Linked DNA regions of Homo sapiens. The protein of the gene in region 1 interacts with the protein of each later gene in a pairwise test. Each region holds a gene or a part of one and is shown on either strand. Other genes may lie near its edges. The genes, in order: BEX4 and PKNOX1.

Region 1 (4,091 bases):
ATGACACCACTGAGATCCAGACTGTAGGAAAATACAGAACAAATGACTATTTCATCAATAATTAAAGAAAAAATTAAAAAATGAAAACCCACAGATTAAAAGAAATTTAGGAAATTTGGCAACCAATCAAAATGCGCATATCTTATTTGTATCTTGATTCAAACAAACTGTTAAAAAAAACTATAATACAATTGGGTATTTGAACACAGATTAGACATAAAATGATATTAAGGAATTGTGAATTATTAAATGTGACAACAGTATTGTGGTTATATGCTAAAAAGAAGAAAACCCTTATCTTGTAGATACATACTTTGAAATATTTATGCCTAAAGTGATATTATGTCTAGAATTTGCTTCAGAAATAATTTTAAGGTTGGGAAGCGGGTAAGATAAAGACGAAATAAGATTGGCCATGAGTTGTTAACTGTGGAATCTGAGTGAGGACTAGTACATGGGGTTTGCATTATACTATTCCATTTTTCCAAATGTTCGAAATTTTCCATTAAAGTTAAGATAAAGTTAAACTATAAAGACTGTTTCTTAAACAAAAAAGGGGCCGGGCGCTCACGCCTGTAATCCCAGCACTTTGGGAGGCCGAGGCGGGCGGATCACGAGGTCAGGAAATCCAGACCATCCTGGCTAACACGGTGAAACCCCGTCTCTACTAAAAATACAAAAAATTAGCCGGGCGTGGTGGCGGGCGCCTGTAGTCCCAGCTACTCGGGAGGCTGAGGCAGGAGAATGGCGTGAGCCCGGGAGGCGGAGCTTGCAGTGAGCCGAGATCGCGCCACTGCACTCCAGCCTGGGCGACAGAGCGAGACTCTGCCCCACCCCCCAAAAAAAGGAACAGAACAGAAAGGTATTAAGAAGAATTAGAAAAAAAATCCACTGTCCTTGACTCATTTCCTGTCCCCCCCCAAACGTTCTGGTGTGGAGAAAAGGATGAGCATTGGTAACAAGTACCACAGTTTGCCATTGGGGTGGGCGGGACTGATGCTCTCTTTATTTAAATTTTTGACATCTTGCTCATCATAAATTTTCTTGCAATAATTGTTTTTTAAAATGTTGCATTAAAATGTTATTTTTCTTGACTGCTGAGGAATTTTGCACCCCTTTAAATTCTGCGCCCGCGTCCTGGTTGGGAGATGTGGGGAAAATCCTGGGAGCCCAGGACAGGGAGAGGCAAGTCCCCACAGAAGTGGGAATGGCCAACAGCTCCCTGAGAAGACAGCTTCCCTCTTGGGGAGGCAGAGGAAGTCCCAAGAATACACAAAGACAGGAGAGTGGAAGGGCCGGCCAGTCTGGAGATACTAAAAGAGACTCCGGATGAGGATAGGGGCTGACCCGAAAGCCCCGCCTGACTCCGGGCTGCAGGAGGGGGCGTGGGACGGGGGCGGAGCCGTTGGCGATGACAACAGCCCCACGTGACCGGCCAACACTGAGTGTTGTCTCGCTCTGGCGTCAGAGCCGTCGTGGCTCGTTCCATTCTCGGCGGTGGTACCTGCTCCCGGTGGCCCTGAGGACGTGTGGGCCAGGGGCGGCCCCGAAATTAGGAAGCGGAGGGGGAGCAGGTAAGGAACCCGGCGGGGGGTCCCTGGGGTTGGTGTGAGGGAGTGGCTCCGGCCTGCGGATGCCCACCCCGGGGGAGCCGTGCGGAGAAGCAATCGGTCCGCGATGCAGCCCCCGGGCCCCGCGGCGGGCCCGCGAGCCTTCCTTGAGCGGAGAGGTGCCCGGCCCGGAGGGAGCCGGCGGTCCTGGGGCTACGACCCTTCGGAAACACCTGCCTACGCCATCAGCGCAAGCTTTTCCGACACCCCTGCCCCGCACTTCTTGGTGCAGAAAATGGTGGTCAGCTTGCGGGGCGGGGCGGCTGAGGCGGGGGGCGAGGGTGGCGAGGAGGGCCAGGGCCAGGGCCAGGGCCAGGGCCTCGGGGCGGGGCGGGGGAGGGGCCGGATGGCGGTAGTTCCTAGCTAGCGTTCTGCTGCAGCAGCCCCCACTTCCCCCACCCCGGCAGTCTGCAGGTCTGCGGGGCTAAGTGTCGCGGCGGCGCACCTCGCGTCAAGAATCCGGAGGAGGAGACTGCAAGGATAGGCCCAGGTCGGTGCGAGGGTCGGTGGTGAGGCGGGGGCCGGAACGTGAGGAAAGCCCAGTCTGAGACCCTAATCCATGCCTTCACCCTCGCCCCCCTCTACCCCATGCAACCCTCCCCTTCCCACACGCCATCCTCGTCCTCCATTTTGCTGCCTGCGGAAGCCTGGAGATGGATCTACAGGGAAAATGGTGGGCTTTGCGGAAGGGAGGGGCTCGGATTGAGGGCACCCCACAGGGCATACTGGCTTCTCAGGTGGAAAAAAATGAAATGTTAGAGTATAAAGTCAAGTCCAGGGCTCTGAATTTTAAAAGGTGCCTAGTAGGGCCTCTGTCCTCAGTGCTTATCAGTCCACCAAGAATTCAGCCCATTTTCTCTCTCTTGTCTCCTAGGAGTAATGGAGTCCAAAGAGGAACTAGCGGCAAACAATCTCAACGGGGAAAATGCCCAACAAGAAAACGAAGGAGGGGAGCAGGCCCCCACGCAGAATGAAGAAGAATCCCGCCATTTGGGAGGGGGTGAAGGCCAGAAGCCTGGAGGAAATATCAGGCGGGGGCGAGTTAGGCGACTTGTCCCTAATTTTCGATGGGCCATACCTAATAGGCATATTGAGCACAATGAAGCGAGAGATGATGTAGAAAGGTTTGTAGGGCAGATGATGGAAATCAAGAGAAAGACTAGGGAACAGCAGATGAGGCACTATATGCGCTTCCAAACTCCTGAACCTGACAACCATTATGACTTTTGCCTCATACCTTGAATCCTAAAAGTTTTCGCTGAGGTTAATGTGAACACTGCTTTACAAGCTTGTATTTTTGTGATTTACTTTTTCTGTAAGCCTTTTGGGGTTTACACTTACCAGTTTCTAATGGAAATTAGAATTCTAATTGAATATTGTTTTGTCTCAGCCTAAAAGTTACGGTCAGCATGGCAATTCACCTATTTTAGGAAAAATACTCTTTTCATAATATGAAATGCATAAAGCAGTTCAAAAAGCAGTCTGTATTCCATCATCTTCCTTTTTCATTCCAGTCCTTATTTTTGTAAGTATTACTTTTCCTCCTCCGGCTACCTGGACTCAAAATCTCAGTTGTCTTTGACAGTTTTTTTCTTGTCCCTGACCAAAAAAGAATGATCATACCCAGAATTCAATGTTTGATATTTTAAGAATGTATGTTCTAGTGTTTTTCAGAGTGAGTCTACCATCTGTATAAAAACACCTTGGGGGCAGGCAGGGGCATTTAAAAATGTAGGACCTATCGTCCAGACTCACAGAGTGGGGCTCCAGAATCTCCATTTTTAACAAACTCTCTTAAGTAATTCTGATGTGTACCAAAATCAGTGCCATTGGTGTGTGTGTACGTAACTATATACATATGTGTGTGTGTGTATATATATAATGTGTCATAACCGTAAACAATAAACAATATCAAGATAAATCTGACTTTGATGGGCAAGTAATTAAAAAAGAAAAGTATGAGACCTTAAAATAAGACTGATGATTATAGGAGTGGTAGGGACAGTGGCAAAGTTATTCACTGTGCAAAGCAAAACATGCCTGAAGGTCACAGCCTGAGGAACTCAGAATTCATCACCCCTGTCAGCAGTTTCACATCCAGGATCTCATTTTATTCTTAGAACAACCTATAAAATCTGTATTGTTATCCCACTTTTACAGATGAGGTCACTGGGGCTTAGAGATGTTAAGTACCAAGGCTAACTCCTGCTGAATATCTTGGGGGTGGGGGAATCCAGCCTGGGCCATTTTCTATTGGACCTTATCATCTGGAGATGCAGAATATTTGACTTTTGTAACTTGATGACAAGCTGAGGATGGTAAAAGAGACTCAGCAAGAATGGGGCTGTTTTTCTATACACTGTTTTTCTACATCTCAAGTACACTTTAATTTTTAGAATATTGAGGGATAAAAAAAGTAAGATCCTCTAGTGTTGTTCAAAGTTAGGATTGCCACTCTATGGCTCTTGAAATCAGTTTTGT
Region 2 (3,814 bases), on another chromosome or scaffold:
TTAAGTTCAGCATAGAATTATATATAACTCAGCAATTCTACTCCTATGCATATGTATACCTAACACAAATGAAAAAAGTCCACACAAAAACGTGTACATGAATTTTCATAGCAGCACAGCCTATCATGGCCAAAAGCTGGAAACAGTGCCCATGCCCATCAACTGATGAATGAACAGACACATTATGGCATCTCCATGCAATGCAAGAATATTTAGCAGTAAAAGGAATGAAGTGGCGGGCGCGGTGGCTCATGCCTGTAATCCCAGGACTTTGAGGGGCCAAGTCGGGCAGATCACTTTAGGTCAGGAGATCGAGACAAGCCTGGCCAAAATGGCGAAATGTTGTCTCTACTAAAACAAAAACTAGGCCAGGCATGGTGGCTCACGCCTGTAATCCCAGCACTTTGGGAGGCTGAGGCGGTTGGATCATCTGAGGTCAGGAGTTTGAGACCATCCTGACCAACGTGGAGAAACCCTGTCTCTAAAGATACAAAATTAGCCGAGTCATGGTGGTGCATGCCTGTAGTCCTAGCTACTTGGGAGGCTGAGGCAGGAGAATCGCTTGAACCCGAGAGGCGGAGGTTGTGGTGAACCGAGATCACGCCATTGCACTCCAGCCTGGGCAACAAGAGCGAAACTCCATCTCAAAAAATAAAAAAAATTAGCTGGGCATCATGGCGGGTGCCTGTAGTCCCGGCTACTTGGGGAGGCTGAGTAGGAGAATCGCTTAAACCTGGGAGGGCAGAGGTTGCAGTGACCCGAGATCGTGCCGCTGCACTCCAGCCTGGGCGACAGAGTGAGACTCCATCTCAAAAAAAAAAAAAAAAAAAAGGAATAAAGTACTGATACCCGTAAAACACTGGTAAGCCTTGGACACTTTATGCTGAGGGAAACAAGCCAGACACCACGGTCACAGGTTAGACGGTTCCCATTTAGACAGAATGTCTAGGAGAGGCAAATATATAGAGATAGCAAGTAGGTTCTAACAGGCTGGGGTCTGGGAAAAAATGGAGAATGACTGCTATTGGATACAGGGTTTCTTTGCGGGGATCATGGAAATGTTCCAAAGTTGACGGCGGCAATGCTGTGCAACTGTAAAAACCGTTGAATTGCATACTTTCAACGGGTGGACCGTGTGGCGTGTGCATTTTCACCCAACAGAGGTGTTAGTGAAGTAGTGCAGGCATACACGCAAAGACATTCTCACGGAGATGTAGAACGTAAATGGATTCTTTTTTTTCTTTTCTCCTCAGGCATCCACTATTTCCATTATTAGCTTTGTTGTTTGAAAAATGTGAACAATCTACACAGGGCTCTGAAGGCACAACTTCTGCCAGTTTTGATGTAGACATCGAAAATTTTGTAAGAAAGCAAGAGAAGGAAGGGAAACCTTTCTTTTGTGAAGATCCAGAAACTGATAATTTAGTAAGTAAAATAAATTTTATTTTTAGTTTTCAAAATGTGAAATCTGTTCATGAAATTTTAGGCTTCTAAGTAGAACTTTAGACTGCTTGTAGTTCTGCTAAAGGAGAGACTCATACAACTCTAAAAGAATTTTTATGGTGTGTGTAATGTGGATATCCCCAAGTCTTCCAGCCTTCTCTAGGTATCTTTTATTTATTTAGTTTTTATTTTTAGATTTATTTTATTTTTGTAGACACATCTTACTGTATTCCCCCAGATGGTCTCAAACTCCTGGCCTCAAGCAATCTTCCCTCCTCAGTCTCTCAAGGCCCAACCTACCCTTTCCTTTAAAAATAAAATAAAATAGGCCAGGCGTGGTGGCTCACACCTGTAATCCCAGCACTTTGGGAGGCCGAGGTGGGCAGATCACAAGGTCAGGAGTTCGAGACCAGCCTGGCCAACATCTGGTCTCGATGTTGGCCAAAATCCCATCTCTACTGAAAATACAAAATTAGCCAGGCATGGTGGCACATGCCTGTAGTCCCAGCTACTCAGGAGGCTGAGGCAGGAGAATCACTTGAACGCAGGAGGCGGAAGTTGCAGTGAGCCGAGATTGTGCCACTGCACTCCAGCCTGGGTGTCAGAGTGAGACTCTGTCTCAAAAAATAAAAATAAAATAAAATAAAATAAAATAATTTGAGCCTCCATGCCAAATGGACACGGGGATTCAGTTCTCTGCACAGTGTTTGTAAAGGTCCGTAGGGCTGGGGTGTTCGGGTGGCATGTCTGTGACCTGTGTCTGTCCTTGGCTTATCATGGACATGGACACAGACTTGAGCTGTATTCTCCAAGACAGCTCTGTCTTTTTTTTTTTTTTTTTTTGAGACGGAGTCTCGCTCTGTTGCCCAGGCTGGAGTGCAGTGGTGTGATCTCAGCTCACTGCAAGCTCCGCCTCCCAGGTTCAAGCCATTCTCCTGCCTCAGCCTCCCGAGTAGCTGGGACTACAGGCACCCGCCACCACGCCCGGCTAATTTTTTTTGTATTTTTAGTAGAGACGGGATTTCACCGTGTTAGCCAGGATAGTCTCGATCTCCTGATCTTGTGATCTGCCTGCCTCAGCCTCCCAAAGTGCAGGGATTACAGGTGTGAGCCACCACGCCCGGCGACAGCTCTGTCTTGAGGCTGACAGTGATTTGTGATGCCCTCCCCCCAGGGCCAGGGCTCCAAAATCCAGCGTTTTCTGTGCCCTCCAGAGGCAATGGAGAACATCTTGGTTCCGTCATCACTGGATTGCTCTGAATGAGCTGCACCTGAGGCACCTGTACAGCACTGTCAGCTTTGGGCAGACCACACTCTCTGGGTGTGCTCTCCTGCCAGAGTGTAACCACGTGTTTACTTCTCAGAGCTGGGTACACAAAGATCCGGCATCAGGGAACCTTCACTGGATTCCCTTCGAGCCATCTTGGTCCCATATCAAAACCCTGGTTAGGGCCTTCAACAGAAAAGGTTTTTGGAAAACTCATTTTTCCTGAATAAATTGCTGAGGTCTTAGTTTTTAAGAAAATTCTCATTATATACTCGATGCTTACCATGAAACAGATTTTGTGGGTGAGTTATCTGACTTGAATCTGTCTCCTCCTCTCTGAGATGAGACTAACAGTGCATGCTCTTTGGGTGAGGATCCGATGCTCTCTCCACCCCTGAGTCTGTGGTCCACATCCATCTTCCCATTGGCCCACACCTGGCTTGGCCCAGTGAGTAGAGCACAGGTGTCCTCTGCACCCCACTAGGCTGGCAGGGACCAAGGTTCTCTTGACTGGTGAGTGTTTAGCACAGGGCCTAGCAGAGTTTGACACTCCATCATTTTTGTTACTGAGTGATTCATTTATTCACTGCATAGATACCTACGAATTCCTACCACCAGATTTACAGGTGAAGGAGATGGGCTTCGGAGCTGCTGATTCATAGGCAGCTGGTGCTTATGAAAATGGCTGCATTATTGGTATTAGTTATCTATTGCTGTGGGACAAATTACCCCAAAATGTAGTTACTTAATATAAAACTATACAACTTTGGCCAGGCGTGGTGGCTCACGCCTGTAATCCCAGCACTTTGGGAGGCTGAGGCAGGTGGATCACCTGAGGTCAGGAGTTCGTGAACAGCCTGACCAACATGGTGAAACCCCATCTCTACTAAAAATACAAAAATTAGCTGGGCATGGTGGTGCACACCTGTAATCCCAGCTACTCAGGAGGCTGAGGCAGGAGAATCACTTGAACCCAGAAGGCAGAGGTTGTAGTGAGCTGAGATCGCACCACTGCACTTCAGCCTCCAGCTTGGGCAATAAGAGTGAAACTCTGTCTCAAAAAACAAAACAAAACAAAATGATATAACTTTTAGAAAAATCGCA

The links.
Region 2: the proteins of BEX4 (region 1) and PKNOX1 interact in a two-hybrid assay, tested with the Homo sapiens proteins (one large-scale study listed by BioGRID and IntAct).

Annotation. Positions count from the first base shown.
Region 1 is NC_000023.11:103,213,665-103,217,755, forward strand, and holds BEX4 (protein BEX4), read left to right. Parts: upstream 1-1,443; 5' UTR 1,444-1,574; intron 1,575-2,017; 5' UTR 2,018-2,100; intron 2,101-2,484; 5' UTR 2,485-2,489; coding exon 2,490-2,852; 3' UTR 2,853-3,582; downstream 3,583-4,091. UniProt on the Homo sapiens protein: May play a role in microtubule deacetylation by negatively regulating the SIRT2 deacetylase activity toward alpha-tubulin and thereby participate in the control of cell cycle progression and genomic stability.
Region 2 is NC_000021.9:43,008,800-43,012,613, forward strand, and holds part of PKNOX1 (homeobox protein PKNOX1), read left to right. Parts: intron 1-1,253; coding exon 1,254-1,425; intron 1,426-3,814. UniProt on the Homo sapiens protein: Activates transcription in the presence of PBX1A and HOXA1.